Linked DNA regions of Homo sapiens: region 1 is linked to region 2. Evidence: fine-mapped QTL for protein levels in blood plasma. Region 2 holds a variant in brackets. A gene starts in the other region. All regions are shown on one strand. Distances are from middle to middle.

Region 1 (2,899 bases), 43 Mb after region 2:
GAGGTGGTCTCAATCATCACTGTGTCACCAACATCACCCAGCACACACAACTGGGCACTGGGAATGTGTGCTGGAATGAATGGAGGATGCTTTTTAAAAACTAGGCTAAGCCAGGTATGGTGAGTCACATCTGTAATCCCAGTACTTTGGGAGGCTAAGGTGGGAGGATCACTTGAGCCCAGGAGTTCAACACCAGCCTGGGGCAACATAGTGAGATCCCATCTCTACAAAACATATAAAAATTGACCAGGGATGGTAGCACACAACTGTGGTCCCAGCTACTCAGGAGGCTGAGACGGGAGGATTGCTTGAGCCCAGGAGTTGGAGGCTGCAGTGAGCAATGATCATGCAACTATACTCCAGCCTGGGCAACAGAGCGAGACCCTGTCTTAAAAAAAAAAAAAAAGAATAACACACTTGGAATAAACATGATCCAAAAAAGTACAAAACATACACTCTGGGGCTGGGTGCAGTGGCTCATGCCTATACTCCTAGTACTTTGGGAGGCCGAGGCAGGAGGATCATCTGAGGTCAGGAGTTTGAGACCAGCCTGGCCAACATGGCAAAACCCCATCTCTACTAAAAATACAAAAATTAGCCAGGCATGGTGACGCATGCCTGTAATCCCAGCTACTCAGAAGGCTGAGGCAGAAGAATCACTTGAACCTGGGAGGCGGAGGTTGCAGTAAACTGAGATTGTGCCACTGTACTCCAGCCTGGGTGACACAGCATCTAAAAAAGAAACCAATCCAAAAACTACAAAATATTCTTGCAATTATAGGTGACATATTTAAATGGTAAGACAACCAATGTTCATGAATGGAAAGACAGAGCAAGACCCTGTCTCAAGAAAAAAAAAAAAAAAAAAAAAAAAAAAAAACAGGCTGAGCGCGGTGGCTCACACCTGTAATCCCAGCACTTTGGGAGGCCAAGGTGGGCAGATCACCTGAGGTCAGGAGTTCAAGACCAGCCTGACCAACATGGAGAAACCCTGTCTCTACTAAAACTACAAAAGTAGCCGGGCGTGGTGGCGCATGCCTGCATTTCCAGCTACTCCCTGAGGTGGGAGGATCGCTTGAACCCAGGTGGCAGAGGTTGCGGTGAACTGAGATTGCGCCATTGCACTCCAGCCTGGGCAACAAGAGCGAAACTCCATCTCAAAAGAAAAAAAAAGAAAAACACGAGGCTAAGAGCTTTTTTTTTTTTTTGAGACGAAGTCTCGCTCTGTCACCCAGGCTGGAATGCAGTGGCGCGATCTCGGCTCCCTGCAACCCCTGCCTCCCAAGTTCAAGTGATTCTCCTGCCTCAGCCTCTCCAGTTGCTGGGATTACAGGTGCCCACCACCACGCCTGACTAACTTTTGTATTTTTAGTAGAGACAGGGTTTCACCATGTTGGCCAGGCTGGTCTCAAATTCCTCACCTCGTGATCTACCCACCTTGGCCTCCCAAAATGCTGGGATTACAGGCGTGAGCCACCGCACCCAGCCTGCCTCAGAGCCTTCAAGTGAGTCAGCCACAGGTGAAATCCCACCTCTGTCTATTGGCAGACTTGCCTCTTTTCCTGGGCCTCTGTTTCCACATCTGTGCAATGGGAACAGTTATTTATGGTGGCTGCTGAATGAGGCAGTGTGTGTTTGAACAAACCCAGGGGAATTGTTCAAACAGAGGCTGTTATGACTATTGCTACAGTGACTGCTGTTGTAGTCACGCTGAGTGAGAAAAAGAGGTTGAAGAGGGTCAGGGGAGGAGTCCTGGGAAGTTCCCCAGTCACCCTGAAAAACTGGTTCAACCTCTGTCTGTGCTCCCATCCCAGGGAGTATAGGTGGAGCCTCCAGAGCCCATGGACAGGGCATGCTGGGGCTGGGCCAGCCCCAGCGGTGTCTCTAAGGCACCCCTGGGATCCCCACTGAGCTGGCCTACTTCAGACAGCCAGGGCCCACCCCTCTGGCCCCCTTAGTGTCCAGCTCGTGGCCCCTTGGCATTTCCACAAGACGCCAAGATGGAGATTCCCATGGGGACCCAGGGCTGCTTCTCAAAGAGCCTCCTGCTCTCAGGTAAGGAGGAAATAGACCCTAAAGGCCAAGGGGAGAAATGGGGACTCAGCCCAGAGATTGAAGTTTCCTCTTAGAAGTAGGGAAAGATTACCTGAGAGGATGAAATTAGAATAAGATGGGGGAGGGGCAACAGAATCACAGCCTCATTGCCATTTTATCTATGGAATTTTCTATAATGTTAGGACCATGAAGGCAGGAATTTATGTATGTTTGGTTCCCTGCTATATCTCCAGTGTCTAGAAATTGAAGGAAGTTTAGATGTATTACATATAGTTGGTATTATAGCTTATATATTACATATGCCTATAAGTATTGGTTGAATAAATGAATGAATGAATGAATTCAGAGAGTCCATGTGTTTAGAAGCAGGCCACACAGCATCTCAAGGTAGAAAAACCTCTGGATCAACAGGATGGCAAATCTGTGGTAACCATGCCTGTGTTCCCACTCCTGCACCCAGGGCAGACATCACTAATCAATCCCAGCATTGTTTCCAATGAGCAGCACTCAGAGTCCTTGCTCCCCGCTGAAGATCTGTATCTAGAGAGGAGCATGCCATGGTCCCTGGCAACACCCCTGATCTCAGCCCTTCCCTGTAACTTCCCACAGCCTCAATCCTGGTCCTCTGGATGCTCCAAGGCTCCCAGGCAGCTCTCTACATCCAGAAGATTCCAGAGCAGCCTCAAAAGAACCAGGACCTTCTCCTGTCAGTCCAGGGTGTCCCAGACACCTTCCAGGACTTCAACTGGTACCTGGGGGAGGAGACGTACGGAGGCACGAGGCTATTTACCTACATCCCTGGGATACAACGGCCTCAGAGGGATGGCAGTGCCATGGGACAGCG
Region 2 (2,899 bases):
AGCCTCCGCACCCAGCTCCTCCCCCGTCCCGGCGGCCAGGACCTCAGACAGGCCCTGGGGTGCCTCCCAACGCCGCCCCGCTTACCGGCGACCCTTGTCCTGCGTCTTGCGGCTCTGCTCAAACAGCGCCGCCTCATTGAAGGAGACCCGGCGGCCCGTGGAGCTGGTGGACAGGAAGCGTTCGGTCTCCGCATCCTGGCACTCGGGGTCCTCTCCCCGGAAGTCGGGGTCTGCGTGGAGAGGCAGGAGAGGGTGGGCCCCGGGCGGGCCACGCCAGGCGCCTGGTCCCGGGAGGGCTGCTCCTCCGGGCGGCCACGGCAGGGAGGGCTGGGGCCGCGGCACGGGCGGCCGGGCTGGCGGGGCGAGGGACACTCGTCCATCCGCTCACACACTCACTCGCTCAGCACGCGCCTGGGCCCACCTACGCCTGGGCGTTAAGGAAACAGAGATGAGTCGGAATCGAGCTGCGCCCAGTCTGGTGGGGGAGACAGACAGACACAGACGGTCAGGCAGCCCGAGGGGGCGGCGGGTGGCCGAGGGGCGGATGGACAGGCGAGCGCACAGCCAGGCTGGCCAGCACCTCACCTTGGGCTGGGTGGGTGCCGTTGTCCAGGTAGGTGGTGGTGGTCTTCTCCGCTTCCTCCATGGCCCTGGGAGAGACGTTGGGAGAGCCCAGTGGCACGGAGGGCCCAGATAGCCACAGTGGGTCTCGGCTCTTTGCCCCAAGCCAAGCCCTGCGCATCACCCAGTCTCCAGAGGCATAGCCCACCCTGTGACTCAGAAGCCAGTGAGGTAGACCCCCCACCACCCGATGGCACCCACAACCACCATGCACCTGCCCAGCCGAGGTGGGGGCCTCGCACCTGTTGAGGCGCTGGTGGACGTCCCAGCAGCGCTTGCAGAGGAGCAGGACGCCAGACAACACCACCAGCGTGCCCCCCACGAACAGCGACATCACCACCACCAGCAGCACGTAGTTGTCCAGGATGGGGTCTGGCTCTGCCTGCGGGTGTGCAGGGGGGGTCAGGTGCTGCTGGCCTGGACGACCTCCTGCCCCTCCCACCTGTCCCCTGCACCCACCGTGGGGCGTCCAGTGGCATTGTCCCACGACGTCGTCAGGGCTACTGTGGCAGTGGTGGTGGTGGTGGTGGTGGCGGCTGTGGCCATGGTGGCTGTGGGCTGCATTCTGAACTGGGGAGGAGGGCCCTGTGGGGAGGAAGCCTGGTCAGCTCCAGCTAGACCTACTTCTCCTGCAGGAGCCACTGCAGACAAGCTGGGTCTTCCCTGCAGGAGCAGGAGCCCACACAGGGGGCAGTGACTCATGGAGAGGTAGCAGAGCCGGAGGCAGCCTCCACCCGGCTTGGCTCTGCCCAGCGGGCCCCGGGGGCTCTCTCTGGACCTCCATCTCCCATCCCCATGGCGGGGGAGGAGGCCTGGCCCTCTGAGGGTGCGCCTGTACCCATCACAACTGCACACAGCCG[G/A]TGCGGCCTGTCCTGCAAGGTAGCGCCAGGCCCTGGAGCTCAGCGCTGGGCAGGGCAAGCACTCGGAGGAATGGGGACGCCAAGGCGGTGCAGCCGGCTCGAGAAGGACTCCAGACGCCCTGTCCGCCCCATCACGGGGGTGGGGGGCTACCCCCACCCCAAGAAGTTCAGCTACACCCTGGCAGGGCCCACCCGGCCATGGTTGGGTAGAGGGAGACCTCCCGCTGCCTGCGCGCCAGGGAGGGTGCAGGGGCTGGGCGCGTGCTCCCGGGTCACGACTCCGGGAGGTGGAGGTCTCCCCGGTGCTGAGTGCTGGTGGGAGTGCAAGGGACAAAGAAGGCGCATCTGTTCCCAGCCCCGGAGAAGCTGGTTCCCATGGCGACTGCGGAGCAGGCCGCGGCTGGGGGGGCGGGTTGCCAGGGAGCGGCGGGGAGGGGGCGCGGGGGCGGCGGCCTGGGGGGGGGCGGCGGCCTCGGGGGGGCGGGCGCGAAGCCGCAAGATGGCCGCGGCCGCCTCCCCGCCGTGCCCAGCCCGGGCGCCCGGAGCATCCCCGGCCGCCTTACGCTCGGGGGAAACTGAGGCGGGGCGCGGCACCAGGGAAAGGAGCCGCCTGGACGCTGTGCGGCGCAGCCGGGTGGGGAGGCCCGGGAATCGCAGGGGGTCGGGGCTGGCGCCGGGGTGCTCGGCGGCCCCAGGTCAGCACCGCACGCGCGAGACCTTTCCCGGAGCGAGAGGAGCGCACAGGCGGCAGCCGCTCCTGCCCTTCCCGGACTTCCGCCCACACGCGACAGCGGGAAACTGAGGCCCAAAGCCGGGCAGGGTCCCGGCGGGGGCTGGTGTCCTCAGCGCTCCCGGTCACAGGCTGCCCGGGCCCTGGTACTGGGGGAAGGGGCCGCATATGTAGGTCGGGAAATGAGTTCAGGCTGGAGGGGGTGGGGACAGGCGCAGGATGGTGACCGGAGGCCGGGGAAGATGGCAGGAGGCCGAGGGGAAGAGGGGGGCTCCTGGGGGAGGCGGCTGCGGGAGCCGAGGGCGGAGGTTCCCCACGGGGCAGCACCGCGCCCCCGAGCCGGCCAAGGGTGGGGATGGCGAGCCAGGGGAGGCAGGGACCCGACGCCAGGGCTGAGCCGAGACGCCATCGTCCTCGCCCGACCTCACAGGGAGAAACTGAGGCTGGGGCGGGGCCTGAGCGGGGGTCCCTCTGGAGGCAGCCGGGTGGGGGGCGCAAGGCCCGGATCTCGGTCCCCACGCCCGCCGGACTCCTCCGCGCCCTCCCTCCGGCCGCTTAGCCCACAGCCGGCTGCGATCCCCGGCCTGTCCCCCGTCCGCCCCCCGCAGCCCCGAGCCCGCCGCGCCTACCTCAGCGCCGGGACGAGCGGCCCATGGGCGGCGGGCTGGCGGCGGGCGGCTGCGTGGCG

Alleles and levels. Positions count from the first base shown, and alleles are read on the strand shown. Strength reflects both the effect of a copy and how common the allele is.
As copies of A replace G in region 2, the plasma level of the protein whose gene starts at base 1,551 in region 1 goes down (weak association).

What was found. PIP is the chance, under the fine-mapping model, that this variant and not a neighbour inherited with it causes the effect. Protein levels are from antibody-based Olink assays in UK Biobank. Linkage for the fine-mapping came from a reference panel and not from the study's own genotypes, which makes the PIPs less certain.
Region 1: CEACAM19 starts here. The variant in region 2 is fine-mapped to the plasma level of the CEACAM19 protein (UK Biobank, PIP above 0.99).

Annotation. Positions count from the first base shown.
Region 1 is chr19:44,669,932-44,672,830 of GRCh38, forward strand. It overlaps CEACAM19 (CEA cell adhesion molecule 19), which reads left to right and starts at 1,551. Exons shown (of 8, transcript NM_001127893.3): 1 at 1,551-2,055; 2 at 2,665-2,899. The coding sequence starts at 2,001.
Region 2 is chr19:1,234,916-1,237,814 of GRCh38, forward strand. It overlaps CBARP (CACN subunit beta associated regulatory protein), which reads right to left. Exons shown (of 10, transcript NM_001393918.1): 1 at 2,841-2,899; 2 at 1,081-1,206; 3 at 864-1,003; 4 at 586-650; 5 at 86-230. The coding sequence starts at 1,185. Among named protein-coding and RNA genes, the nearest start is that of CBARP-DT, 1.6 kb to the right of the region's middle. The variant G/A (reference allele first, on the strand shown) is at 1,482.